Linked DNA regions of Homo sapiens. The protein of the gene in region 3 purifies or fractionates together with the protein of the main gene of each other region. This does not show direct contact. Each region holds a gene or a part of one and is shown on either strand. Other genes may lie near its edges.

What was found.
Region 1: the proteins of LSP1 (region 3) and MYO1D purify together in Homo sapiens (affinity purification with mass spectrometry; one large-scale study listed by BioGRID and IntAct). This does not show direct contact.
Region 2: the proteins of LSP1 (region 3) and SCIN purify together in Homo sapiens (affinity purification with mass spectrometry; one large-scale study listed by BioGRID and IntAct). This does not show direct contact.
Region 4: the proteins of LSP1 (region 3) and TMOD2 purify together in Homo sapiens (affinity purification with mass spectrometry; 2 studies listed by BioGRID and IntAct, with this or other methods). This does not show direct contact.
Region 5: the proteins of LSP1 (region 3) and MYO1B purify together in Homo sapiens (affinity purification with mass spectrometry; one large-scale study listed by BioGRID and IntAct). This does not show direct contact.
Region 6: the proteins of LSP1 (region 3) and TMOD1 purify together in Homo sapiens (affinity purification with mass spectrometry; one large-scale study listed by BioGRID and IntAct). This does not show direct contact.

The regions. Positions count from the first base shown.
Region 1 is NC_000017.11:32,866,858-32,871,396, reverse strand, and holds part of MYO1D (unconventional myosin-Id), read left to right. Parts: intron 1-4,539. UniProt on the Homo sapiens protein: Unconventional myosin that functions as actin-based motor protein with ATPase activity. Plays a role in endosomal protein trafficking, and especially in the transfer of cargo proteins from early to recycling endosomes.
Region 2 is NC_000007.14:12,568,653-12,573,991, forward strand, and holds the start of SCIN (scinderin), read left to right. Parts: upstream 1-2,067; 5' UTR 2,068-2,134; coding exon 2,135-2,333; exon of another isoform or gene 2,334-2,729; intron 2,730-5,339. UniProt on the Homo sapiens protein: Ca(2+)-dependent actin filament-severing protein that has a regulatory function in exocytosis by affecting the organization of the microfilament network underneath the plasma membrane.
Region 3 is NC_000011.10:1,851,663-1,856,922, forward strand, and holds the start of LSP1 (lymphocyte-specific protein 1), read left to right. Parts: upstream 1-1,421; 5' UTR 1,422-1,482; coding exon 1,483-1,535; intron 1,536-5,260. UniProt on the Homo sapiens protein: May play a role in mediating neutrophil activation and chemotaxis.
Region 4 is NC_000015.10:51,757,837-51,762,375, forward strand, and holds part of TMOD2 (tropomodulin-2), read left to right. Parts: intron 1-4,539. UniProt on the Homo sapiens protein: Blocks the elongation and depolymerization of the actin filaments at the pointed end. The Tmod/TM complex contributes to the formation of the short actin protofilament, which in turn defines the geometry of the membrane skeleton.
Region 5 is NC_000002.12:191,412,151-191,416,689, reverse strand, and holds part of MYO1B (unconventional myosin-Ib), read right to left. Parts: intron 2,643-4,539; coding exon 2,510-2,642; intron 2,174-2,509; coding exon 2,021-2,173; intron 576-2,020; coding exon 448-575; intron 1-447. UniProt on the Homo sapiens protein: Motor protein that may participate in process critical to neuronal development and function such as cell migration, neurite outgrowth and vesicular transport.
Region 6 is NC_000009.12:97,499,731-97,504,747, forward strand, and holds the start of TMOD1 (tropomodulin-1), read left to right. Parts: upstream 1-1,935; 5' UTR 1,936-2,073; intron 2,074-5,017. UniProt on the Homo sapiens protein: Blocks the elongation and depolymerization of the actin filaments at the pointed end. The Tmod/TM complex contributes to the formation of the short actin protofilament, which in turn defines the geometry of the membrane skeleton.

The DNA.
Region 1 (4,539 bases), on a different chromosome or scaffold from region 3:
TTTTCAGCCTTGTCACTATTGACATTTTAGACATTTTAGACTTTGTTGTAGGGGCTGTCCTGTGTGTCGTAGGATGTTTAGAAGCATCCCTGGCCTCTACTCACTAGATGTCAACAACTCCACTCCTCTTTCATTTATGACAACCAAAAATGTCTCTAGACATTGCCACAAGTCCCTGGGGGGGTTGTGTGTGGGTGGGTGTCTTTGTGCTCACATGCATGCAATATTATCCCTAGCTGAGAGCCACTGGCTCTTGCTGTTTTCACCCCCTGGAATGTCCTCCTTTCCTCATCTCTGCCCTCATTCCCTGCCTGCCATACTCTTACTCATCCTTCAAGACCAGATGTGAGAAATCTTTCCCAATCCCCCAAAACAGGTCAATGTCACATTCTCATGTGCTCTCAGGATACATGGACATTTATTCATAACAGAGAATTTATCATATTCATATTCCTCACCAACCTATGGAATCCTCAAAGGCAGATAGCCTGTTCAGAGGTAGATCCAGGTTTTCTGGTGCTTTGAACCTCATAATGCTTGGGGGCAACCACCTTTAAGAAAAAGAATGTAAATCATGAATGCAGAATAAAATGCAAGGCTTTGGAAGGGGAAGGTGCAAGTGAGTGGCTGTGAAGCAAACCTACCTTTAATCCTTTTGCGTTTTCTGTGATGCTACAGAATTTGCCCTTCCCCATGTTTAATACATCTTAAAATGAATTAACTGAGTACTCAAATGTTGGCTGATTGGTCTTCAACCAATGGAATTATTTCTTTTTTTTCTTTCTTTTTTTTTTTTTTTAGCAGACAATCTTCTCAAAATACTGTACTTTAATAGAACTTAACTGTGTGTTGGGGCAGTGAGTTATAGATTAGAAGAAAGGCAGGAAACAGACACACACATACTCACCACACCACCCCTGTATTCTTTCTCTGTGGCTGTTTGGTCATTTGGAAAATTTGGTGGGACAAAGGGTGTCTCTTGCTTGCCAGGGAAAAAAACCCATAGATACCCTGGGTGGTCTTCAAGTAAATGTAAACCTGCCATTGGTTCAGGGCTCTAGTTAGAAATAGCTCTAGTTAGATTTATAGGAGAGGTGAATGGCACACTAAATCTTTTTGGCTTCCATGTGAAATTCTTTGGCAACCTCTTTTGAAGGCCTTTGGAAAAGGACAGTTTGCTCTCTGCCTGTTTTGTACATTGGCTTCATATTGGGACAAAAATGGGAATTTGGGTTTTGGAGCTGCCATTTGGAGTGAATCACCCTGCCGCCTGGTTTCCTTTCCTACTCCGTGACAGATTTCCGAGACTATTTTTATTCAGGGTCATTTCTTGACCCTGGAGACTTCTGCTGAATTTAGTTCCCAAATAGAGCCAGATGTGGGTGGAATCAAGCACTTAGAAGTTGCTACTGGTTCATTTCATTGCAGGTTCTGATGGGATCTACTTTTCTTTTTTCTTTTTTTTAGACGAGGTCTCACTCTGTCACCCAGGCTGGAGTGCAATGGCACAATCATGATTCACTGCAGCCTTGACTTCCCCAGCTCAAGCAACCCTCCTACTTCAGCCTCCTGAGTAGCTGGGACTACAGGCGCACACCACCAAGCCTGGCTAATTTTTTTTTTTTATTTGGGAACTACTTTTACATTAAAGAGATACACTTTGGCTTTTTGCTTAACTTTGAGACAAAAATGTTGAATCTGATATAGCTAGAAATGTGTTTATTTAGTGATCTCCATATTAGCTCTATGTGGAGAGCTGTTCGTTGACATTCTCACCTAAGTGTGAGTCAGCTAAGCAAAATGGACACTATCTCTAGGAGTGACCTCATTTAATGATAATTCTCTAGTACCCATTTGTGGTGCTGCCACTGGAACTGGTTTGGGTCATTGTATTATTGCCCAGCCACTGCTAAGTCGGGGAACTTTACTGTCAGCAGTGGCTCCAGCTCCGCTGGGTAGATTACCTGTTCATGAGCCTCACCGACATGGCCTATAAAAATGCCAACTATATTCATAATGGGGTCAGAGGGTAACAGCATTTTAAAATATGCATTGTATGTCTCTCCTTTATCATTTATTAGATGCCTTGATTTGGATGACAGTTTTATTTCCTGTAGGAAGCAGGCTTCTTTCAGTTCAACTGCAATGTAATTACTGGCTAGATCTCTTTTTTTTTTTGAGACAGGGCCTCGCTCTGTTGCCCAGGCTGGAGTGCGGTAGTGCGATCTTGGCTCACTGCATCCTCTGCATCCCAGGTTCAAGCGATTCTCATGCCTCAGCCTCCCTAGTGGCTGGGATTACAGGCACGTACCACCACTCCCAGCTAATTTTTTTTTTTTTTTGTATTTTTAGTAGAGATGGGGTTTTGCTATGTTGGTCAGGCTGGTCTCAAACTCCTGAGCTCAAGTGATCCGCCCGCCTCAGCCTCCCAAAGTTTTGAGATTACAGGCATGAGCCACCGAACCCAGCCAAGATCTCTTGAATAGAACAATGTTTTCCAAACTTTAGTTTTGAGCATTTGTGGGAAAAGAGAATCAAAAGTATGCTTCCAATAGGGAATCATGGAAAGAGCACAGGCTCTGAGACGTAAATGACCAAGTTCAAATCTCAGCTTCAGCTGAGCATACTTCTCTTACCATAGGCTTCCCTAAGCCTCATTTCCTTATATGTAAAATGATCGCCTTTTAGGGTTATTGAGATGAAATCACATGTTCAGCAAGTGCCTGGTATATAATTCTCACTCAACTAATGCTAACTCTTCCTGAATCCTTCCCGAATGGCCTCACCTCCCTACCCTGACCCCATAACTGCTAGAGAGCTAGATATTTTCATCTCTTCCTTGTCATTTCTTCCTCCCTCACTAAGACAAAGTTTTGTCTTTTTTGTTTGTTTTGATTTTGTTTGGGGGGCAAGGATGAAAGTTTGCAATGGCGCAAACTAGGGAATTCAGATTACCTAGCAGAGAGTGCAAGAACACGAAATAGACAAATCTGGACCTTAATCTTGTCTTTGTTCCTTTACTACCACCTGTGTGACTTTGGACAAGTGACTTAGCTTCTTTGAGCCTCAGTTTTTTCATCTATAAAGATGATGTGTTCTTGTGAAATTATAGCACATTTAAAATATGTGTCAAATACCTATGGTGGTGGCTGAAGCATAGTAGATACTCAGTGGGTACCCCTCTGTCTCTGCTCCATTCCCTGGTCCAGCCCTGTGAACCAAAAATGCCCTTGCTATTCCCAATTCACTCTGTAACTATCACCCTATGCATTCTCATAATCACATTCCCTCCAGGTATCACTATTTAATTTCTAGAAATCGTTTTAGACTCTTTGGAAAATGAAATATATTCATATTTAAGAGATTTCTAAACTATTTTATTCTGCATGTCACTGTTCTCAGCCTCCGTGAAGGTTTGTAACATCTAGGCACTATTGCTAGGTAATAGACTTTAAGTCTAGAGTTTTTTTTTTGTTTTTTTTTTAAATCTATAACCAATTTCCTCATTATCTATAGACCCTATATGTTTTTCATATAATCTCCTGGTATTAAAGCTAGCAACTACTTGAATTCTTTTTTTTTTTTTTTTTTTTTTTTTGAGACGGAGTCTTGCTCTGTCGCCCAGGCTGGAGTGCAGTGGCATGATCTCTCGGCTCACTGCAACCTCCATCTCCTGGGTTCAAGCAGTTCTCCTACCTCAGCCTCCTGAGTAGCTGGGATTACAGGCGCCTGCCACCATGCCCAGCTGATTTTTGCATTTTTAGTAGCGACAGGGTTTCACCATGTTGGCCAGGCTGGTCTCGAACTCCTGACCTCAGGTGATCTGCCCGCTTTGTCCTCCCAAAGTGCTGGGATTACAGGCGTGGGTCACTGTACCCGGCCAACTACTTGAATTCTTACAGTGTGCTTAGTGCTGGGTTGGGTACTTTGGTGGGGGTTACTTTTAATAAAGTTACTCTTTGAGGGATAGCTTAATTGGGAGTAAGAGATACCTTAATAAATGGATCAATATAAAGTGAAATATGATTGAGCTCAAATGAATAGCACAGACAATTCTTTTTTTTTTTTTTTTTGAGACAGTCTCACACTATCACCTGGGCTGAAGTGCAGTGGCGTGATCTCAGCTGACTGCAACTTCCGCCTCCTGGGTTCAAGCAATTCTCCTGCCTCAGCCTCCCGAGTAGCTGGGATTACAGGCACCTGCCACCACATCCAGCTCATTTTTGTATTTTTAGTAGAGATGGGATTTCACCATGTTGGCCAGGCTGGTCTCAAACTCCTGACCTCATGATTCACCCGCCTTGGCCTCCCAAGACAATCCATTCTTTTAAGGGCTTCCTACAGAGAAGGAATCAATATATCATATTTTTAGAAAAGAGAACTGATGACAATATAATTAAGAGCTGTCTATATGTATGTACTATATTATGAGGGAATTCAGAAAAAGAAAAAATGGCATTGGGAGTAGGTAAAAAATGCCCTATGGAAGAGGTAGAATGTCAGCAGACCCTTGTTGAAGTAGAGATAGTCTTTCATTTG
Region 2 (5,339 bases), on a different chromosome or scaffold from region 3:
CCCTTATCTGCCTAAAGTCTCGACTTGCCAAAGAAGAAAACAGTTACCTCTGGTCTCTTCCCTGACTTTCCACAAACTGAACTCATATTGCAGAAAGAAAGACTGAAGTCTGTCAACACACACGGAGAGCTCTGCAGGCTTAACATACTTTGTCTCAGGCCACTGTATGTTCTTCAAACACATTGAATTCCCCTAAAAATCATTTTCTAACCCCCCAAATCACCCATACATCACCCATCTGCCTTTCCTCTAATAAGGAGGTACAACCCTCTGTACCTCATTGGGATATTGGCCAATCACTCTGTGATTCTCCCCCATGCCCGCTGATAAATTTGTATGCCATTTGTCCTGTTAATCTGCCTTTTGTGACTTGATTTTTCAGTGAAACTTCAGAGGGTAGAGGGGAAGTTTTCCCTTGGCCCCTACACTATGAACTGAGATAGACAAAATAAATTAGTATGTTTATAAAGTGGAATACCATATGGTCAGTAAAAACCGGTAGCTCTATGAGTACTGTGTGTTGATACACAGACACACACACACACACACACACACACACACACACACACACACACACGGGGGGGGATTCGAAAAGGTTATATGTTACATTTTCTGTTAAAAATTTAAAATAACTACATTACCTATATTCTTGTTGACAAAATTTGAGTGCCTGGAAAAATACATAAGAAACTGGTAACGTAATTGCCTTTGGGGAAAGCAACTGGGTGGCAGGGTGAAATGGAGATAATTTTTTATTGCACACATTTTGTACTTTTAATTTTTTTACCATGGTCATGTAATAACCTATTAAAAACATAATTTAATTAAGGAAAAAAATCTAATTTTGCATTATTATTGACCTTCCAGGGATTCATGTAATTTGAGAAATTGAATGAAAACAATTTTACATGCATGAAATTCAGCTTTCTTACTCTATACATCCTGAGTGATTTGCCTTTTTCAGTAACAGAATCCTTTGCTATACCAGCTTGTTAAATGAATGCCAAATCAAGAGTAAAATTTCCATCTGTATTCCATAGTGTTTTAGCCATGCTGCAAAAGCAAAACCTGTAGGTAAAACAAAGAAAATTATCACCTTGAAGCTAGGTAACAGGTAACCCAGAAGTCCGGCCAAGCATAAAATTACAGCCACAAACAGCCCTGCAGAGAACATCTCAGGACGGCGGCTGCTGGGTTTTTGTTGTTGTTTTCATCTTTCTTGGCCAAAGGAAGCAGGTGTTAAGAGAGCTCAACCACAGCTCCTGAACTCTGAGATTTACAGAGCTCTGTCACCTGGGGTAATACTGCCATTCTTCCAGGTTTTCTTCCTGTCCAAGAAATCTGACATGCTGTTTTTCATGGTATTTTCAAACTGGAAGATCGAGACAGAAACTTTGGTCGTCAGGAATGCAGAGATTGCCCAATGAAATGACAGAATTGATCATTAGGATGCTTGTTACTCAAAAAGCCCATTTTTTAAAGAAGGATGTATTAAAATTATTCCAGCATGCTAATGTGGCACACTCCTCTGCTGCCTAACGGCAGGTGTTGCTATTAGCAGAGGAAGCCTTGTTCTAAGAATTATTCTAGAGGGCCAGAAAGAACAGGTATTGCTCCACCCGAGTAAACGCTGACTCAACTCTGCAGGGCTGGCGCGCTCTTTCCTCACCTCACCCCTCCTGCCAGGCACAACTGAGATCCAGAAATAAGAGGATTAGCGAGAGAAGGGGAAATATGCAGGACGGTAGTGATGGGTATGCACAAAGGAGTGCCAAGCAGTTTTAACCGTTAATGTTCTTCGTCTATTGCTAGAGAAAATGTCTTTCCTTGGAGGAGGCATTGGCACGAGTTACTATAAACTCCCTCTGAATCTCAAGACTTCTGGGACGCCGATTCCGCTCCTGGCCTGGGGCAAGGCGTGGGAGCTTGGAAGCCAGCGCTGCGCTCCCCGTGGGAAGCGATCGTCTCCTCTGTCAACTCGCGCCTGGGCACTTAGCCCCTCCCGTTTCAGGGCGCCGCCTCCCCGGATGGCAAACACTATAAAGTGGCGGCGAATAAGGTTCCTCCTGCTGCTCTCGGTTTAGTCCAAGATCAGCGATATCACGCGTCCCCCGGAGCATCGCGTGCAGGAGCCATGGCGCGGGAGCTATACCACGAAGAGTTCGCCCGGGCGGGCAAGCAGGCGGGGCTGCAGGTCTGGAGGATTGAGAAGCTGGAGCTGGTGCCCGTGCCCCAGAGCGCTCACGGCGACTTCTACGTCGGGGATGCCTACCTGGTGCTGCACACGGCCAAGACGAGCCGAGGCTTCACCTACCACCTGCACTTCTGGCTCGGTAAGGGACGGCGGGCGGCGGGACCCCGACGCACCAAGGCCGGCGAGGGGAGGGCGTAGGGGTCTGAGATTTGCAGGCGTGGGAGTAAAGGGGACCGCAAACTGAGCTAGCCACTCGCGCCCCCACGGGGCTGCCCTTTGGGGCCGGCCACTTTCTCCCTACCGAAGTCAACTCGCCGGCTGCAAACGCGGGGCTCAGGCGTTGTCCGCAATTGACTTACCTCGCAGGCTTTGACCTTTGCCAGGTGTAGTTCCTGGACTTTGGAGCTGGTGACTGGCTTCTTCCCCTTTCACCGTCAAGTATCCAAACGCCACTCTTGTCCAGGGCCGCTGCCTCAGCGCACACCGTCTCTGGCCAAGCCCCGCTCACCTTCCGACAAACTCAGTCCTGCTTTCCCTGTCGGGATGGAGAGGAAGTCATAAAGTCTGGGGGCATCTGCCGCCGCTAGGAAGAAGTCCTTTTCTTTTTCTTCACACATTATTTTTATTTGTTGCTTTCGGGCACTGGCTTATTTTCTCTATGATTGCGGGAATTATTGTTCTGGGCTTCTTTAAAACAGGATTCTACCCGCACCATGCTGCTTGTGGGTCTGGTAGACAAAAACTCCGCTTCATTCGGAAGCTGGCGTCCTCAGATAGAAGTAAGAAAAAAATACAGATATTTTATATACAAATAAATAGCTCTATATGGGTATTTCATATATTTATGTAGACTGCTTTATTGTTATTATTTATTATTTATTTTAGCAAGGACACAAGATGGAACAGAAACGGCTCCTTCAGCAGTAGTAATTATTTTGAGCTGCGTTCGTGCCAGGCTGTCAGGACACTGGGCCTTGTGTGTTCTTTTTCCACCTTCTACTTTTACTCATAAACATCCTGAATGTCCAGCCTCTCCCCAGGAGGTCTTGTGCCAGTGGGCACACCCTGTCTAACAACATGCCGATTCTCTGAGCCTTTTTGCCTTCTTTTAAAACTAGCTAGCCTGCCCAGTACTCGTGTTTGTTTAGTTTTATCCCTGAGCTTAGGAGGAAAACACACAAAACCACACACACTTACACATTTTTGAGTCCCTGAAAGCCAACACTGTAATTTCCAACATTTGAAGATTTTAAGAAACAAAATAATAGAAAACATTGAGTAGTGACTGTCTAAACATTGGCAAACACCTGGAACAGGCATTTGAGAAATGAGAAATGAAAAATACGTAGATGAAGATAAGACTTTTAATTATAACATTTGGAGTCAAAAATTTGTGTTAGCTTGAGGAGGCAGAGAAGGCTCAGCCTGAGTTCTGAACACATTTTGGCTTCTTGATGCATTGCTGTTATTCCTATTATAATGTTGTAATACACAGTCATCTATTTGTATTTTCTGCCAGAAAAGACTGAAACTTTTATAACCCATGTTCAAGAATGAATGATGCCAGATAGAATAATGATGTCCTTACAGAGGACTTTCCATGCAGAACTTAAATCTAGCATGAATGAAAGTGTTTGAAATGCCACATTTGCCATTTGAGTAAATTAAAATGTGAAATAATGCCATATCTTACTGTAGACAGCAGTTAAGTTTGACTTTGTCAGATGACCGCAAGGGAGATTTGAACACAATTCTTTAATTCTATACATTTTTATCCAAGTTGTCCTCTTAACTACTATATTTTGTAGGGTTTACAGATTCACCTTATTCACTTAATTATCTACTTAATTATCCACTTGATGCCCATAAATTTCAAAAATATAATAGAAAATGGTTTGGGCAGAAACATTTATAATCTTAAAGACATGCTAAAACTGAAGTCAATAACATGTTAATAACAAGCAAATTCATTCAGTAATTATTCAATATGGCCAGTACTGTACAAGGCACTTGTGGATATGAATAATTAATGAAACTTCTCTAAAAGTTCATCACCTCAAAGGTGCAAAAAGACAAAAAGTGATATAACACAGGTAGAATGTGATAATTACTGTGAAAGCACAAAGTTTCTGTGGTTATTGGGAAACAGAAGCCTTTAGAGAAAAAAAAAATGAGAGTACTTGGAAGTGTTCTTGTGTCAAGAGAGAATTATGGAGAGAAAAAAAGCTTCAAGTAAAATAGTCAACAGGACTTTCAGATGGGATTGCCCAACAGCTCTTCCTACTTCAGTTCCCTAAGAAAACAGAATTTCATCCAAAATAGTGTAGTCTAAGACCTAAATTAGGATGAATCCATGAGGATTCATCAGAGAGACAGATTGAGAGAAAGTCACAGGAGAGAGAGCTGAACTTCCAGGGGAAAAGAACATTTGGTTAAAGGAAATCAGCCGGAAGAAAGAGAAACTAAAGTTAAACTGAGATGAAAAAAGGTGCATAGCATAGAAATGAAGAAACAGGCCAAATGGGAGGCAAAAAGGGGAAACAGGAAGAAGTTGGACCTAGAACAAGAGAGAACAGAGCAGGAGAGTCGTCTTTCTTGGTCTCTCCCTCAGTGTTTCCATAACACTTGGCATATCTCAGATTATTTTATTGTATTAACATTACATGCTTGAATGTATTAACATCATATGCTTAAATGTAATGAAAGTAAAAATTTATTGCAAAGAACTTAAATGTTATTGCATTAGCCCTTCTTTAAAAACATTTCAGCTTTGCACCTAGCAGTTTAAATGCATCCATTCACCTCTGTTTGTAGTTCCTTATAGCACCAAATCAATGGGTAGGTCTAGATAGTAAAACTGCTCCCTGTCACATCCCTAACCTAAGGTACAAACACTTATCCTCACTCTTTCTCTTTGCCAGTTTTAAACTTCACACAAATATATTTTAAAGCAGTATACATTTATGTTATAAGTGGGCTATACCAGGCCTTGTGCAATGCCCTGGGAATCCAAAGGATTGGATTACAATATACGATACAAAGAACTTATACGAAGGACTGGCTAGAAACTGGATCATTTACATTGCTGGAGCATGGGGGTGGGTACATGCAATGGTACAGCACTCTGGAAAAGAGTTTAGTAGTT
Region 3 (5,260 bases):
CATGAGGGGAGCCGTTTCAGGATGGCCTCAGGATGGAGGCCGCATGGTGAGAACCGCAGGGCTCTGCCATGTGCCACTCTGCAAGGGGGACTTGGGGGCCCTTAGGGACCCCCAGGGAGGAGGCGTGGGGAAGACACAGGCATGGCCTGTTCATCTCCATGGCGCTGGGCCTGATCTGGTTTTAGCCCTGCCCATCGTCTGGGCCACGGATCCCTCTGGTGCCTCCACTCGTGGGGCTCTGAAAGCCTCTGCTGGTCTTTGTGGTGTGTTTGGTGGGTGGGGGGCTCGCTGAGTCCCAAGGAGGCGGCCTCCGGTTCGGCCCCACCCTGATGGGTCAACACTCTGGGCCCAGGGCCCTCCCAACCCCTGGCCTCTCTCCAGCCCCTCTTTGCCTTGGGACCCCCTGTAAGTCCTTGCTGGTTGGATTTCTCAGGCCCAGCCGCTGGCCAGGGCTCCCTTCTCCCATTCTCCTGCGCTGAGGTTTCCAGCAGGGAAGCCTTCGCCACCTCTGTGGCTGCCCTACTCTGGCCCAGCTTAAGTCCTCCCCTGCCTCAGCTTTTGGGGTCTGGCTCCTGCAGTCATGCATCCCTCCTCCTGACCCTGGAGCCACTGCGTGGTCACTCCCAGAAGCTGGGGACAGTGAGGGCTGGAAACAGCCTCCATCCCTCCCCTCGGGCTGGCCTATGCCTCTTGGGAGGGTCCCTGAGGCACTGCCTTTAGAGCCTGGGGACACGAACCACTCGGTGGTCAACTCCAGCGACCAGAGCACGGAGAGCAAGGGGCAGCGGGGGGACGAGGCGGATGCCCGACAGCTCGGCATCAGCAAGGCAGTCCAAGACAGAACAAGGCACCCGACGGGTAGAACGCAGGGGCATCCCGGGCACAGCCCCCAAAGCCACCTGGGACCCACAGCTGTTTGATGTGCTCAAGGCTATGACCCCAGGCTTCGAGAAAAGACTCCACCAAGTTCCATGAGCACCTGTAGGAGAGCCGGCCTCTGGGTAGATTTCACCCAAAGAAGCTAAAACGCTCACGTGGTGCTTATGGGATCACAGACGTGTTTGTCCCTGATGCTGCAGGAGAACTGGCCACTCACAGGTGGACCTGATGGCCAGAGCTACTAGCGGGGACCAGGGGTAACATGGGTCCCCCTCCCCGAGCCATGAAGAGCTGCCTGCGGCCATCTTGGCCCTCGCACCCCGTCTCTGTCACCCCAGGCCCCTGTAACTTGCTTAACGCTTCCTGAGGGGTGGTTTGGGTTTTTTTTTTTTTCTTCCTCTCCTCTTGTAGCAACAGATTAAAAAACAACACCCTGACCCAAGCCGAGACAGGTTCCAAACCTCAACCTGCAGCCGGAAGGGGGAAGTGAAACTCGGCTGGGGGTGGGGGCTCAGAAGCCGCCCCAGAAAGCACTGAAAGCCACAGCACGTACACCCACTCCAGGGATCTGCCAGCACCCTGTGGGGCCCAGACTACAGGCTGATGGCGGAGGCTTCGAGTGACCCGGGTGCCGAGGAGCGGGAAGAGTTGCTGGGGTAAGGGTCTGCGGCGACGCCCGGCGCCCTGTGCCGTGTCCACGGGTGCATAGTCCTTGAGCTGCATGGAGGGTGGAGAACTGAGGTGCCTGATGGGGAATCTGGGGCCCCCAATGGGAGAACTTGGATGTCCGATGGGGAAACTGGGGACCCACAGACAGGTGGCAGGAAGTCTTGCTGGGACCCCCCTCTCACAACAAGGGTGGAGGTCTCTTCCGCCTGCCTCTGTGCCCTGGACTCACTGGGGGAGGCGCGTGGGATCCTAAGCCCATGGTGGATGCCTGAAGCGAGGAGACCCCAAGACGTGTCCTGGACTGCCAGGGAGGAGCTGGGGACTGTGGGCCCTGTTAGCTTGGGAAGAGGCAAGGTGGGGGCTGGGGAGCAGCTGTTCTGGGATGGGTGGAACTGGCCCGGGCCTGGCCACCTGCCCACAGGACTATCTGAGAGGGGCTATCCTGCCTTGAGGGTCTGGAGGCCGCCAGGCTTGGGGCCCAGCAGGCCTCAGGGCAGGGCACCCAAAGCTGCCCTTGACCTGCGGTAAAGGACAAGGCCAAGGATTCTGGCAGGTGCCTGTGCTGGGTGCCAGGCACCGTGTGTTGGTTGGAGTGGGGACATGAGGGGGCATGGCAGAGGTTGTGTGTAGGACTGCCAGAGCTGGGCAGAAAAACCCCGCTGCCAAAGGCCTCCTAGCGGGCAGCTGTACTCTGTGGTACCAATGGGCATCCAGCCCTGTGCTGGGGTGGGTGGAGAGGGCTAGCGGCTTAGTAACTGGGCTCCCTGGCAGAGGGGAGCTGCCGGCCAGCAGGCATCCAGGCATCACAGCTGAGCCTCGCCAGGGGAACCCGAGTTGCCCCCGGTGCAGGTCCCAGAAGAGATGGGAGGGCTCAGGGCGTGCGGTGCAGGGACAGGTAGGGCTTTGAGGGGCAGAGGGGCGACGTGCTAATGGTCAGGGGATGGGGATCCGGTGCTGGGGATAGAGGCCGGCCTAGGAGCAGGTCAGCGGGGGCTGTGGCCTGGTGTGCGGAAGGGAAGGCGCTGGGGCCCAGGTTGCAGAAAGAGTGTGATGCCCGCAGCCACACAGGACGGACCTGAGAGGAGGCCCAGGGTGACGCTCACATACCCCAAAACTGCAGCCAGGGCTGCTACCAGTCTCTGCCTTGGTGCTGACAGCAGAGGGTCCCGGTCTACCCGACCCGGGGCGGTGCAGGGACCACCTCCCGGCCTTCACACAAAGCTCCTGTGCTGTTGGTGGCTGCAGTCACTGTCCTGTGTCTGTGTCCTTGGTGGCCGTCACATTGCTGTGGGTCTGGTATGTGTGAGGGGTCTGCATCTCTGACTTCTTGCTGCCAAATCCCACTTGGGTACAGGTGCGGGGGGCCACTGAAGGGACCCCGAGTGCCGTGAGTGGAGTGGAGGCTAAGCAGAGGCCGGGGCTGGCTGAGGGCTGGGTCGGGACGTCCGTGCCTGTCCCCAGGGAGAGGTGGGAGGATGCCCTGCCCAGGCCGTGTGCAGGGAGACAGGCTTCTGGGTGCACAACAGCTGTGTCCCAGCTGCAAAACGGGCCCTCCTGTCAGCACCACCCCCAGCCCTGGACTAGGTGCTGCTCCTGGTCACCTCATGCCCATAGAAGGGCAGGACATGAGCCTCTGGGCTGGGGCACCCCCGCCTTCCTCCTTGGCCTCATCCTTGGCCACCCCCTCCCAGCTGTCTCAAATGCCCTGGATCCCCCGGGCCAGGAGCGGGGAGGGGGGGTTGGAGCGGGCATGGCCAAGGCACAGATGATCCTGGGGCATCTTGGTGCAGATCCTGGGAGGCCAGGGCTGCACCTGTGCCGGGGCTGTCAGGCGCTCCAGCTGGAGAGCGGCGGTTCTCCTGGGCTCTGCAAAGCCTGGACCCCCTCCTTGGACATCCCCTGCCCCCGCGAATTGCATGGGGTGCGCAGCCAAGCCTGACCTTTCAGAATGAAACTGAGAGCCCCAGTGGGGTAGGCTTCTCATTTCACAAGGTGACTAAGGGAACCGGGGAGTTTCCTGTCTAGGATGGGACAGAAGTCCCCTGCACCCAGGCAGGGATGTATGGCCTGGGAAGCCCCCACACGGGAGTCCCCAGGAAGGCCCAGGCTGGGCAGGCTCAGCTGGGGCTGGAGCAGTGGACAAGACAGCCCCCCGTGCATGTCACAGAGTGCCAGGTACGCCAGCCTGTGACGGTCTCAGGACATGCCCTCAACACTAGGTCCAGGGCAGGCCAAGCCCCTCCAGCTGGACAAGTGGGTCCAGCCCCTCAGACTGTCGCATGATGTGGCCCCTCCCCTCAGACTGCCCGGGACGGGGCCAGATTCCTCAGAACCACCCCTCCATGATGTGGTCTCTCAGATGCCCCCAGGACAGGACTGTCCTCTCCCACGAGGCCTCAGGCCAAAGAAGGTCCCCTGACCCTGGGCGGGGTCCAGGCTCCGCTTCGGCTACCAGCCAGGCTGGACTGCGGTTCCTCCACTCGGGGGCACTCCTGTCTCGCCCCGCTGTCCAGCAGACAGTCACTAGCTTGTCCTTGTCCCTTGGGGGCAGGGACGAGGATTTCACAGAGCTGCCTTGTGGCTCTGGGGGGACTCTCTGGTGACGCTGGGGGATGCCTGCCCTCTATAGCCCCCAAGAGCAAGGCTCTCCCCACACTGAGGAACTATCTGGCCTTGGAGGCCTTGAGGCGATGAGGACGGGGCGTCCTGGTCCACAGCTGGGGAGGGTCAGGTTGCCCTCTCAGACCTTGGGTTCGACATATCCAGATGTTGGAGCCCAGCTCTGCAGGGGTGTACCCTCCCTGGGGTCACACTGCATTTTTGGCTGCAGTGCCTGTCCTTGGCCCAGCTGCCCGGGGGTGCCCACCCGCCCAGGCGTGCCCACCCCATGTCCACACCTAGAAGGCAAGTCTGCCTGCCGCCACCCTGTCCCACAGACACCCTGGCTGCCCTCTCAGTCTGCCCCTGTGTAGCCCAGGCCCCCATCAGGATGACCCTACCCCCAGTCTGTTCCCCATGAGCGACCAGGCCGTGTCTCCCACGGAAAGAACCATTCACCAGCTACAGGCAAACTCCATGCCCCTGGGTGGCCATGCCAGGCCCTCCTGGCCTGGTTGAACTCACTTCCCATCCCACCAGCTTTCCCAGCTCTTCCCAGTTTTGGAAGGTGTCAGAGCCCTGGCACATGCCCCTCCTAGCATCACCCAACCGCCCTGCTCCTCTGCAGACCTTCAAAGGCCTGCCCAGCCCGCGGTGGGAGGCCGCTGCCCAGGGCTCTGGCAGCACCTGCCATGGACAGGGCCAGTCCTGGAGCCCCGCCTGGCCCATCGGAGCCTCCCTCGCTTCTCTGTGTGCTGAGCTGAGTTGGGAAGGGCAGGGATGACCTGAGGGGCTGCTCTGGCAGGGTTCCTTCTGGCCATCTGTCCCTGGAGACCCTCAGAGCTCCAGATTCTGAAGGAGGAAGGGGCTGGAGGCCCCCGGCAGCCCCCTGGAAGTCTTCATCTGAGCAGCAGGAGCCCATGGGATGGAACCCCCCAGGCAGCCAGGCCCTTGGGCAGCCCTCCCGCCCACCTGCCCTCCGAGCCAAGGCCAGGCACCACCTGGAGGATGTGCAATGCTCCACGCTGGGGCAGGTGGCCCTGAGAGCCCCCAGCGGTGCCCACGACTGCTCAGGAAAGAGGGCAGAGCTGGGGACAGTTGGGGAAGCCACCTC
Region 4 (4,539 bases), on a different chromosome or scaffold from region 3:
ACAGTATTTCTATATTTGCTTTTTAAAAATACAGCCTGGGCAATGTAGCGAGACCCTGTCTCTACAAAAAATTTAAAAACTAGCTGAGTATAGTGGGACATACCTGTAGTCTCAGCTGGGGTCAAAGGAGGTGGGGGGAATACTGAGGCAAGAGGTTCACTTAAGCTCAGGAGTACAAGGCTGCAGTGAGCTATGATCACATCATTGCACTCCAGCCTGGGGAACAGAGTGAGACCCTATTTCTAATAATAATAATAATAATAATAATAACTAGCTTTTCCCCAAATCTTCAGATCAAAGTTGTGCTCCAGGAGGATGCAAGTTTTTTTTTTCTCCTCTGACTTTGAGATCCCCTGGTACATTGACACAACATAGGCAATTTGTTTTAACAGCTACTGTTACATAGTATGAACATGTTATTTTAATTAATTAATGTATTTTCCTACTGAAGTATGACATGGCACTTATTTTCTGGGAGTTTGTAGTGTAGCTGGAGAGAGAACCATACATGCAACATACATGAAAAGATAGCAAGATATGTCAAATTGGTGATGTAGGCATACAAATTTAGAGGAAGGGGCAACTTCTGTGGGCTTAGATGATCTCAGAAAGCTCCATCACAGGGAGAGGAAGCAGTGGATAGAGTGGAATGAGCTCTGGACCTGCGGGTTCATTTGAACTCATTTCTTTCACATGACATTTGTTACACAATATTTATTGGATACCTACTTCAGATCAAGAACTGTGCTGGGAGTCAGGATTTTATCAGTGAATAAAACTCATACAGTCCCCCTCCCTCACAGAGATTAGCAAGGAAAATAGAGATAAAGCAAGTAGTTGTAATAAAGCCAAGAACAGATGTGATTAAAGGGGTAGCATGGAGATGGGGAGTGACCCAGACCTTGTCTCCAGGTCCAAACAAGGCTTCCCTGAAGAAGTGAAGCTTGCATGAGACCAGGGGATGAGTAGGATAGCAGTCAGCCAGAGGGGAGTGGGGTGAGAGTGTTCTGAGCAGAGAGAACAACATAAGGCATGATCCAGGCATTGGAATTGGGCCAGGAGGCTGGAGCCAGGAGGAGATGGGGAGTGCAGCACAGGATGAGGCTGACGAAGATGACAGAAGACAGACTGAATTTGAACCTTATCCTCAAGGCAGCAGAAGCCACTGGAGGATTTTAAGTAACTAGAGAAGAGTTGTTTAACTCTGTGCTCACTTTGGCCATTTGTATGGCGAATGGATCAGGAAGGGATAGGGTTGAATGTGGACAATGCAGATGAGTGAAGTGGGTGGATTCTCAACACGTTTAGGTAAGGACAGGATTTGGTGATTGATGGCTGGAAAAGAGACGAGAGAGAGAAGATGTTAAGGATGGCTCCCTGGTTTTTCGGCCAATTTCCTGAAATGGGAGATTCTGGAGGAGGAAAGATGATGAGAGCACTTCTGACATATTTGAGGTGTCTGAGGCAGCCAAGGAGAGATGTGAATTAGGCAGATGGAAATATAGGGGCCTAACCCTCAGGAAAAAAGTCTAGGATGAAGATACAGATTTTGGAATCTCCTGGATATATATTATAATTAAAATTTTGGAGGCAGATGAGTTCCTCCAGAGAGAATATGTAGTATGGAAATAGAAGAATTTATAAGATGAGACCTTGAAGAATGCCAGTATTTAAGGTGGAGGAAGAAGAATTGCTAAAAGAGACCAAAAAGAAATGGTCAGAGAAATAGAAGAAAAACCATCTATGTTGCTGGATTGAGCAATCTTTAAGGACTCTTTCAGCTCTGACATTCTGTGGTCCTGCAGAACTGGGATCTGAGCCAGGTCTCAAGAGCAGAGCGCATAGATAGGCCATGAGAATAGAGAACAGCATTCCAAGTAATATTAATGTATCAGCCAGCATCCCAACAAGAAACGGGATACACTCGAGTAACTTGAGAAAAATTTAATAAAGAGGCTATTTACAAAGATGGGGGGAGGATTTAGGGAATCCAACAAGGCAGAACTCTGGCACCAGCTGCACAAGGAACCCTTACCACCCAAGGCCTGAGGCCAGCCAGGGGCAGGCAGCTGTATGGAGAGGGCTGCCTCTTGGGAGATGTGACCTTCTGGACCCAATCTCCCCCTCCCCTGCTCTCCAGTTTCCTGCTAGTGCCCCCTGTGGGCCAAACAGAAGCCAGACAGAAAGGGAACCCATTGATACAGTCTAAATAGATCATCTTCCTGGAGCACAGAGCAGCAGGGGAGTGGATGTGGAGGTGCAAACAGAAGACAGCCAGAACAATCATCCTGGAAAATGGAAGTATTTGGGTAAGAGGGTGTGTTCATTCCCTATTGCTGCTGTAACAAATTAGCATAAATCCAGTGGCTTAAAACAATACAAACTTATTCTTACTTTTGTGGAAGTTAGAAGTCTGAAACACATGTCACTGGGCTAAAATCAAGGTGTCACAGGACTGTATTCCTTTCTGAAGGCCCTAGGGGAGAATCCATGTCCTTGCCCTTCCCAGCCTCCAGAGGCTGCCCACATCCCTTGGCTCATGGCCCCTTCCACCATCTTCAAAGCAAAAAAATTGCATGACACTGACTCTTCTGCCTTCCTCTTCCATCTTTTAAGAGTCCTTTGGATTACATTGGCACACCCAGATCATCCAAAATGGTCTTTCTATTTTTAAATCCTTAATCTGGGCTGGGCGTGGTGGCTCACGCCTATAATCTCAGCACTTTGGGAGGCCGAAGTGAGTGGATCACTTGAGATCAGGTGCTCAAGACCAGCCTGGGCAACATGGTGAAACCCCATCTCTACTAAAAATACAAAAAATTAGCTGGGTATGGTGGTGCATGCCTGTAATCGCAGCTACTCTGGAGGCTGAGGCAGGAGAATTGCTTGAACCCGGGAGGTAGAGGTTGCAGTGAGCCGAGGTCGTGCCATTGCACTCCAGCCTGGGCAACAACAGCAAAACTCTGTCTCAAAAAAAGAAAAAAAAATCCTTAATCCTTAATCTAATCACAACTCATTTGTTTTGCCATGTAAAGTAACATATAGATGTGAGGAATAGGAGGAGGACGTATTTAGGTGGCCATGATTCTGCCTACCACAGAGAGCAAATAAGCCATTTTAGCCGAAGTGGGCTCCCCAGGAAAGTAACGAGAGAGAAAACAGGAAGTGCAGGTTAAAGCCAAATCATGGGAGCTTTGGAGCTAGATTGTCTGGATTTCATTCTGTGGACAAGAGGGAGCCATTGTAAGTTCTTAACCAGGGAAGTGGCTTGTTAGCAGTGTTGAGAAAAATGATCCAATTATAGTGTTCTGGGTAGCTTACAGGGAAAAACAGAAATCTTTCAAGATGCAATCAGAGTAGTGCAGGTATGAAGGAACAAAAGGCTGAAACAAGAGTGAAAAGAAGGGGTGGTGTGAAAAATGTTGTGCAATAAGGACCTGCAGGAGGTGCTGACCGGCTGGACTCAGAAAAAAAAGTGGGAGAGTCTGAAGCTGGTCTGAGTGTTGGGAGTGTCTGACTGGTAGATTAATCTAGACGGCAACTCTGTTTAGAGAAAAATTGGGAGTTTAGGTTTAGTTAGAGAATCCAGCAATAGAAATCCAAATAGAGGCTGGGCACTGTGGCTCATGCCTGTAATTCCAGCACTTTGGGAGGCTGAGGCAGGAGGATTGCTTGAGCCCAGGAATTCAAGACCAGCCTGGGCAATATAGTAAGACCTCATCTCTGCAAAAAAGAAAAAAAAATTTAATTAGCTGGGCATGGTGATACACACCTGTAGACCCAGCTACTCGAGGGACTGAAGCAGGAAGATCATTTGAGCCCAGGAATTGGAGGCTGCAGTTAGCTATGATCAAGCCAGCCTGGGCAACAGAATGAGACCCTGTCTTTAAAAAAAAAAAAAAATTCAAATAGAATCTTATAAACTCTAAGATACCATTGATTGTAAAACTCTCCAGTATTTTATGTATCACTAAGAAAAAAAGGCTGGCAATCAAAATATAACATGTTTTCTTAAAAATACAAATTTTTGGCCGGGCACGGTGGCTCATGCCTGTAATCCCAGCACTTTGGGAGGCCGAAACAGGCAGATCACGAGGTCAGGAGATCGAGACCATCCTGGCTAACACTGTGAAACCCTGTCTCTACTAAAAATACAAAAAAAATTATCCGGGCGTGGTGGCGGGCACCTGTAGTCCCAGCTACTCAGGAGGCTGAGGCAGGAGAATGGCATGAACCCGGGAGGTGGAGCTTGCAGTGAGCCGAGATTGCGCCACTGCACTCCAGCCTGGGTGTGAGTGTGAGACTCTGCCTCAAAAAAAAAAAAAAATACAAATTTTTGGCTGGGCACAGTGGCTCATACCTGTAATTCCAGCACTGTGGTAGGCCAGGCTGGGAGGATTGTTTGAAGACTGGAGTTGGAGACCAGCCTGGACAACATAGTGAGATCCTGTATCTTCAAAAAATAAAAAAAAAATAGCCCGGCATGGTGGTGCACACCTGTAGTCCTAGCTACTTAGGAGACTGATGTGGGAGAATCGC
Region 5 (4,539 bases), on a different chromosome or scaffold from region 3:
TGCGCCCGCCACCACGCCCAGCTAATTTTTTTTGTATTTTAAGTAGAGACGGTTTCACCATGTTGGCCAGGCTGGTCTCGAACTCCTGACCTCGTGATTCGCCTGCCTCGGCCTCCCAAAGTGCTGGGATTACAGGCGTGAGCCACTGCGCCTGGCCTACTCTCTGACTCTTAACCCTTTTTTTCCTCCATAAACACTTGTTAGCCAAAATCTTATCAACTATTTCATCATTTTATTTGTACATACTGGTCTCTTCCACTAGGATGTCAGGTACATGAGGTTGGAGACTTGGTCAGTGTCATTCACTGCCCATTTATCATGTGGAACAACTACTAGACACATACCTGGTACTTAATAAGTAGTTGTATTAATGAATGAGATCGAGAGCTGAACTAAAACAAAAAAGCTGAAAGAGAAAAAGGGTTTTCAAACAATACATGAACGTACTCATCGGAAATCTCAATATTGAGCTTCTGTTTGGTTTGGCTGAGAGTTGTGCGATAGAGCTTGGTGGCCATTTCAATCAGGTGATCACTGCTGAAGAGAAAGTCTCCTTTACTAGCTGCTTCTGAGCCCTGCAAGGACAAACCAAGAGTCGGTCATAATTAAAGATACCTTAGAAGGTCAATATTTACAGGCTTGGCTAAAAACATACTTACAGTCTCTTTAAAACATCAGATCCTGGAATCCATTCTCCCAAGGTAAACAATAATGACAAAAGCAGTGTTTCTTCCAACTTGCTCAGAGCACTTTAGTAAGGTTACCTAATCCCCTTCTACCTAAAGTCGGTGGATGCAGCAGAAGCACCATGTGCATCACTTGGAGCTTGCTAGAAAAGCAGAATCTCAGGCCCTACCACAGCCCCAGTGAATATGAAACCACAACGCAACCTCCAGGTATGGGTTTACACATTCAGGTTTGAGGAGCATGGACCTATCCCGCAACTCTTCTGAAGGACTTGATTAAAAAACTTTTCAGTGATTTGGTTAAAACCCTAATGACAACACTTCCAACAAATATCCTAGGGCAGTGGCTCTCAGCCTTAGCTGTGCAAGGGAATCATCTGGGTTTATTCAAAAAAAAAACAAAACAAAACAAAAAAAAAAACATGATGCTTGTGCCCCCTCTGAGAAATTCTAATTTGATTTCATAGGGGTATGGCCTGGGCATCAGAATTTTTAAAGTTCCCAAGCTGTTTACATGTGTCACTGAGGTTGAGAATCACTGTCCTAGTATTTGATATGCCCCCTTTAAGTTAAGATCCAAAGTAGGGTAAACAGGCTAAGGGAAGCTTTGGGGATTTTTCTAAGTTTAGGGTTGGCCAGAGAGTAACATTATTAGCTAGACACATGTCCCTACATATGATCAATATTTGTTAACTTTTGTTTATTCAGTGACTATGTGTTATGTGACAGGCCCTGTTCCTCCAGTGTCTCATTTAATCCTTAATCCTTACAACAATGCTATGAAGTAGGCACTCTTACTATCCCCATTTTAAAGATGAGAAAAAGTAGGTAGGCACACACAAATTAAATGCCTTGGCCAAAATTATCATAAAGTGAGTGAGACCAACTCCAGAACCTACATGTAACCACTGCATCCAAGCCAGGAGTCCTGGTTAAGCTAAAGGCACAGAACACTAAAAATTATTTAGGTTAAAATTAACTGGCGGTTATTTTATTTTAGTTGTATCCTTTAATGTAAACCCCCAGATTAGAGATGAACATTAAGACATTTACTAAGTTGATACATAGAAGAAAAAACAGGAGAAAACAAAATTTAAAACATCTTGATATTTCTATGTATTAGTCTCAAAAAGTAAAGTAAACTGGCCAATAAAAGTGATTAACTTTATTCAATTACTGAAAAACTGAGTCGGAGATTTTACATAGGGGTGAATATCCAAAATTTGCAAATTAGCAAGGCAGATATATAAACTGCGATAGGATTATCAGATATGGAAATTTTTTAAATCAATGGCTGAGAGATTAAGCACAGAAATCTTCTGTTGAACCTTTACCTCTTTGAGGTGGACGGCGAAGAAGCCATCATTTTGTGAGCTCATTGATACCTTGGTCACATCCACCAATGGAACCTCTGACTTGATTTGTCCAGACTTTTGGTCAGCAAGAAGGAGATTATTGTTTGTTAAGAGGAAAATCCGAGATGTACTCTAAATCAAAATAAAAAATAGTATAAAACCAATGATCACAAATACTCAAAAATGGTCCATGAGTTTAAGGCATTATTTGCAAAAATTCCAATATCCTTCAACAAACATACCTATGTAAACCAAGAACGCAGTAAAGAACATAAATAATATGTTTTATTTCATAAAAATGTCAGAGAACAAGCAAAATTCCACCTAAGCTTAAAGGTAAGGGGAAATAGCCGCCTTCATAGTTAACTCTACTGAGAACATGAAATGCAAATTTTTACATTCAGAAAACAGGGTGACTATCCCAACTAATAGGTACTTCTTATCAGTCTTCAAGGTTAGCATTTTTACCTTCCCATTAGCACGGTTAATTTTGTTCACGACTTCAGCAATGATGATCTTTTCTTCAATGGCATCTTTGAGTTTCTTATACTTGGGGTTCTTGTTGATTTCCAGGTAAGCCCCTTGGAATGGTTGCCCAACACTAAAGGAAAAAAATTCCTGCACATTAGAAATAGTTTCAAATGAAAGTACCACTAAAAAAAGGAAACAGGTCAGTTGATTCTAAGGAGTAGCTGACAACTTCATAAAAATTGATTTCAATTTATTTTATATATTACACTTACATCTGTCCTAAATATAAGTTGGAAATGAAACCTTAAACCTATTTCAAATACACTTTTGGGGTGATCATGGCATTTGGTGGGCAGGACTTTGATAATAATCTTATCACACGGAACAATCAAGACAGAAATCACTCATAAGAACAACAGCTAAGACTCAAGTACATGGCCTCATGTGAAGGAAAAGGCAATTTCTTCTAATCTGTTAATATAAAGTTAACAGCTGCTCACAAAGGATTTACTAACGCCTTCAAACAATATGTGGCAGTGAAAAGAGCTGAAATCATTACCATCACCTGCTCTAAAGAAAAATTTCATTTCTTGCAGAGAATAAGAAAATCAATAGGCCTTCTGGGAAAGAACAGATCCAGGGCAATCACTTTAGAAGAAAACTATAGAACACTTAATATTAACATGTAACTGTGGTTCTAAGTAGGCAATACAGATGGTCTCTGACTTGGTTTGACTTAGGGTTTTTCAGCTTTACAGTGGTGCTCATAAACCATTCTGTTTTTCACTTTCAGTACAGTGGTCAATAAACCACATGAGATATCCAACACTTTATTATAAAACAGGCTTTGTGTTAGATGATTTTGCCCAACTGTAGGCTAATGTAAGTGTGCTGAGCATGTTTAAGGTAGGCTAGGCTAAGTGATTGTGTTCAGTAGGTTAGGTGTATTAAATGCATTTTCAACTTATGATATTTTCAACTTCATATGACATATGACAACTTCATAAAAATTGACTTCAATTTATTTTATACATTACGCTTGCATCTGTCCTAAATATAAGTTGGAAATGAAACCTTAAACCTATTTCAAATATATTTTTGAGGTGATCATGGCATTTGGTGGGCAGGACTTTGATAATAATCTCATCACATGGAACAATCAAGATAGAAATCACTCATAACCCATATGATGGATTATCTGTGTGTAACTGCATCATAAGTTAAGCAGCATCTGTATATGAAAGGAGAATCAAGCCTCTTCTCCTAGAATATGCCTCTAAATGGACAGAAGTAACCAAAGCAAACATTCAGAATCAGGGCAATTTTTTTTTTCCCAAACAAACTAATTTTTGTAAAAGGTTAACTGTACACTTATCACTAAGATATCAATTTCCCTAAAGACTTGTCGGGGGACTCTTTCAGGACAGGTTCATCAAAGGCACCAAGGAAAAACTGCTGCTTCAAGGAATCTATAAGCTTCATTTTGAGCTACAAAGTTCTGGCAATTTGCAAATACAAATTTAAATGCTTATGTTGTGGGTGGAGGATAAGGGAAGAAAAATCCACGTAGGTGGTCAGCGTTTCACAGCTCTCAGGATATAAAAGGCCAACTCCCATAAGAGCTGCCACTTTGCAGGGTGGTGGGAGGCTAAATTATTCCACCTCTCTCACTGCTGTGGGGTGAGTGTGCCACTATCCCTGAAAACTGATAAGACTACCCAAAAAGGACTTGGCTTGAAGTTAACTTTTTTTGGTTCCTATTCAACTGTGTTTTAAATTATAAAAATGCTAACAGGCTTTTAAATTGTTTCCTCAAAGATGTATTTTCCAGCCTGTAGTTTCTGAAGAGTCATCCACAGGAAATGTTCATTAAGAAGGTTATTCCCTAATTTAAAAATGTATAAAAAAAAAGCTGAATAAAATTAGTTGCTGAAGCAAGCATACAGACAAATTCTCCTGTTTGAATATGCTTTATATAACAGGCACTTTGGACAACTTTGGATTTAGACACTGTGTTTGACTTAAGG
Region 6 (5,017 bases), on a different chromosome or scaffold from region 3:
ACAAACAAAAAACCTAAACATGAAAGGCTAAGGTGGGAAGATAACATAGGAAGATAACTTTATAACCCAGGAACAGGAAAGAGTTCTTAAACAGGACACAGAGTGCTGCCAATAAGGGAAAAGATTGCCAGACTGTATTTAAGAACACCTGTTTATCAAAATACGTTAATAAGGTGAAAAGGCAAAAGAGTGGAATATAACTGAGGATACACACACCATTGAATCTATTCAATACACAGGACTATCCAGAAGAAAAATGGACAATAAATCTGAACAATTCACAAAACAAATCCAACTGGCCAATAAATATGAAGTGATACTCAACACATTAGGATATAGGGAAATGCAAGTTTGAACCTCAATGAGATACCATTACTCACATATCAGAATTTCTAAAGTGTTTCAATTTTTGTAACTTCAAGTGTTGTTGAAGATGGGAAACTGCACTGTACAATGGTACTATAACTTTGGAAGAGTTCAGGCTTATCTCTGCCGAAGTTGAGGTTAGGCTTTCTCTATCACCCAGCACTTCCAACAGCAGGCTGTGCGCGTGGACAGGAGGATTCTGGCAAGGAATGTTCGCAGCAGCACTATTTGTAATAGCTAAAACCTGGAAACAACCTAAATGCCCATTAATAGTCAAATGGATTTTTTTTTAAACTGTGGCATATTCATACAGTGAAAAACTACAGCTGCATAAAACCACAGATTAACAACAGATTTGAACAAATGAAGACATACTACAGAGGGAAGAAAAAAAACAAGGACATGATCACCGTAAGGGTCAAGAAAGTGATCATCTTTAGAAGGGAGTTGGGACCCAGGAGGGACAGGTTGGCTTCTGGGCTGTAGGCAATGTTCTCTGAGTGACTGGTTGCACAGGTGTTCACGTTGTAAAAAGTCATGAAGCTGCACATTTATTTTGTTTACACATACAACATAACTTATGTTGTATGTTCTTATATGTTCGATTCACAACAAAAATGTTTTAAAATAATCTGAAATATTAGATCACTGCTTATTTTTAAATGTATGGCATATACCCCTTGAAAAGAGCGTTCTCATTGTGAGGACTTTAGAGAAATTCATTTTCTTGAGAAACAAAATTTGGTTAATGAGTGTTTCTCATTAATAATCTATACATCAGGATTAAGAGCTGATTTTATTAAGGTCTACCCTACCAAAAGCTTTCCCATAATAATCCAAAATAAGACGTTTTCCTATTTCTATATAAATTCCTTTGCATGAGACATTTGTTTATTAAAACACTTAAAATTGTATTTGGAATAAACCACCTAAAGTGGTTTGTTCTGAAAAAAAAAAAAAAAAAAAAAAGCCTTTTAAGAACTTGGGTCTTTTTGTTGTGGTCATTTAAAATCAGTATTTTAGACACTCCACTCGCTCTCAGTGTAGAGAGAATGTATTCGATTGCGTGTTGGAACTACGTGTAGACAAAACGATCGCGGTTAAAGCTTGCGGCTCAGAGCCCACCTGGCCGCGCTGCTGGGAAACGGACGGAGCGGCGCTTCAATCAGAGGTGAAGGTGCAGCAGCTGCTTAGCTGGCTTTGGTCCATCACTTCTGGGGACTTCAGATTCTCAAAATCTTAAATTCTAAACCCCACAGGAATGCAAATCTGCCCACCTTTTCCCACATAACTCTACCGTCGCTCAAACTCTTCCTGGTACCAGCGGGGAAGCGGAGGAGACCCAGGCAGGGGCCCGCGCTCGCTCGGCTGCAGCCCGACTCCCCTGCGCTCCCGGCCCAGGGCCGCGTCCCGACGGGGAAGTGCGCTGCGCCCGGGCGCCCCCGAGTGGAGGGGGGGGGAAGGAGGGAGCCGGCGGCGGGCGGGGCGGGGCGCGGTGACAGCCGAGCCGGGCCCGCCCCTGGCTCCCACCCCCGAGCCCACAGCTCCCGCCCGCCCGCGGCCGCCCGGGAGCTCGTCCAGCCCCGCGCTGCGCTCGCCCGCCCGCTGCCCGCCGGAGCACCGCGGCCTCCGCCCGCGTCCATCTGCCCGCCGCCCGCGCCTGTTCCGCAGCCCGCGTCCGCGCCGGCCCCACAGCTCTGCGTCCGGGTAAGCCCCCACCCCGCCTGGGGTCCCCCTCGCGCTCGCGGGGCTCCCTGCCCCCGCTCCGGGGCCTCAGCCATATCTGGGCAAAATATTCAGCTGTCGCCGCCGCCGCCAAGAGGGACTGAGCGTGGCTCCCTCTATAAATAGCTGCCGCCTCGGGTTGCCTCTGGGGCTAGGGAGCCCGGGTCTCGGGGTTCCGAGCCCAGCGCTCCCGTCCCCGCCTCCCCGCGCGCGCAGCCCTGGCCAGGGCGCCCTCCGCTCTGGACCTCCGCACCGCGTCTGTGAACGCGAGAAGGACCCGGGGTTCTGGAGGAGACGGCGCCCCGGGCTGGGGTCCTGGCGGAGGGGCGCCCCCGCCACCCGCAGGACTCCAGCGCGGCGGGGCTCTGAGCCCGCGGGGTGCTCAGCTGGGTACAGGTGCCAGCCGGAGCTGGGCTCGGGGGCGCGGCCTCTTCTCCGCCTGCAAGAGTCTGGGGGTGGGAGTGGGGGAGTAAAGGCTCGACTGGACGTGGATCCCAGGTTCGCGCTGAGAGTGTTTGGGGCAGGTGAAGTTTCCCAAACTGGGAGAGACAAGGTTTAAAGCACCACGACACGCGCTACGCGGCCAAGTGGAGCTGGAAAGAGCTTGGAGGCGGGAGCCCCAGGTTGTCGCCGGCTCTCGGCATGGCCTTGGCAATCCCCCTCTTGTTTCTGGATCTCAGTCTCCCATTTGTAGGGGCGAGGTTTGGTAGCCGCGATGGAGCTGGGAGCCCAAGCCCTGAGAGCTGCAGGGCGCGCTCTTGGCCGCCTGCGCTCCCCACACCTGTTCACCCTCTCCGGGCCTGGGACGCTGGGGTCCCAGCCGCGCACATGCGGAGACGCTGCAGAAATCGGAGACTGACTGCCCCAGACTCGATCGTATCCTGGGACTCACTAAGGCCGTCGGATATCCTAAGCCGTACAACCCTAGGAAGTGCACTTTTGGGGTGCCTATGGGCATCTCTCTGCTCCGTAGCCGGCAAAGCAGCCTGTGAGCCACGCAGCTTCAGATGCGATGAGCTGGGCAGGGGCAGTGGTTCCAGTACAGCCGCTCCCTGGCCACAGTTTCCCGGTCTATATCGGGCCTATGATGCGTCCTCCAACCTGCGCAGCGCCGCCCCCTCCTACACCCTTCACCCACCGCTACTATTACAGACCCTGTCTCCAGCCCTCGCCCTATGCCCTCAGACTCTCGGAGACGACCTGGCCCAAGCTCCTCCGTGTCTGAATCGCAGAACCAGACCCTGAACCCAGGTGCTGGGCCCTCAGCGTGAGAACCCCTAGGGCCCCCACCCCATCTTTCTTCCAGAGGTGACTGCCATTTTGTCCTCTGTGCAGGGCCGCAGAGCCCCCTGCTCAAGGTCACACAGGGCCGGTCACGCCAGAAGTTCTGCAGTCTCCCAGCCTTTCCCATCTCTTTCCGCACCCTTCCCACTGCTCAGGCAGGTCCGGGAGCTCTGGGAGCACCCGATCAATGCCCCCTCTTCTTGAATCTGCTGCTGTTCTGGACTTTACCTTGTCTGGACAATAGCGCCCTCATCCTGAAGTTTCCTTTTTGCTTCTACTTTACTTTCTGTTATGTGTTTTTTTCTAAAGCCATCTCAAAGACTTACAGAAAAAAGAATTAACGGGAAATGGAGTCAGATAATAAAGTTTCCATCAGTTAGAGCCACACAACCAACAGGCAGAGTGAAAACAAGAATACTGTCACTTTGGTGTATTATCTTTAATGAGCTAGTCTTACAAACCCGTGTTTTAGAGAGTCATTGACCCTTGAGTTTCTCCCAGCCTAAGATGAAAGCCAGTGTCCTCTAAAAATAGCCTCCGCCCCACCTTATCAGGGTCTCACACCTTCTCCCTCCTTCAGGGTAGGGCGTTTTCTTGCAGCTCAGCAAAAACAGAAAACACAAAGTAGGTGTGGCAGCTCTGAGCAATGGGAGGTGGACTGGCCTGGAGGTTAGGATATCTGGCTCCAGCCCCAACTCTGCCACCCACTCAGAGGAACCTTGAGCAATGAGGGGGCAGACAAGGTGGTCTCTAGTGGACCTGGAGTGGAGAGGGCTTAGAGTCTTCCTTGGAAGCCTTTCTAGCATGACCCATCCTGTAAGGAGGAGCTGGGGAAGGAGTGAGAGACAGTGGCTTTCCCAGGTGCCAAGGGAGGACAGAGGTGGGCAGTGTCACTTGCTGTGGAGAGACAGGAGTAGGGGGATGAGGACTGGGAAAAGACCATCAGGATTGGCAGGGATCATGAGTGACTTAGACCAGGGTATTGCAGCAGGCTCAAAAAATGAGATCTGCCAGTGACCCAGCCTGTCTGAGCCTCGTTTTCTCCTCATACAATGGAGACAACAATAGCCCCATTTCATAGGGGCTGCTTGTGAGAATTAAGTGAGATGATTCAGGGCAAGCCCTCAGCCCAGAGCCTGATATTGCAATGATAGTATTCGTTGTGGTGAGGGGGAAAGGCAGGAGCTAACAGGAGCTGAAGAAGTTCTCCACTTCTTCAGGCTGTAGGCTGAAGAAGGCTCTCAACAGAGCCAGCAACTCTTTCTAAAAGCTTGGATGAGAAAGGAAGGGAGAGGGAAGGTAGCAGGAACTGAGGACAAGGAACAGAAGGGAGGCAGGCATTCTAGGATAAAGAGTATGGCAAGTAGTGAGAAGAACCCAGGAGAGGGGAGAGAGTTAAAGGGGAATCTAAAAGGTGTGCCCATAATGAGGATTGGGGACCTTCCTTAGTGACTTGCAGAATGTCACAGACTCTGCAGGTGGCCTTCATCCCCTGGAATGAGCAAAAAAAGGTAAAACGAAGCAGATCCTGGCTCAGACCCCTATGTCTCTGGCAGACCAGTATCTGCGATGGAGGATGGTGATGGGCTGTGAAGAGTGTTTTGACCCTGCTCTGGGGCCTCATAACCTTGGCTTATTTATT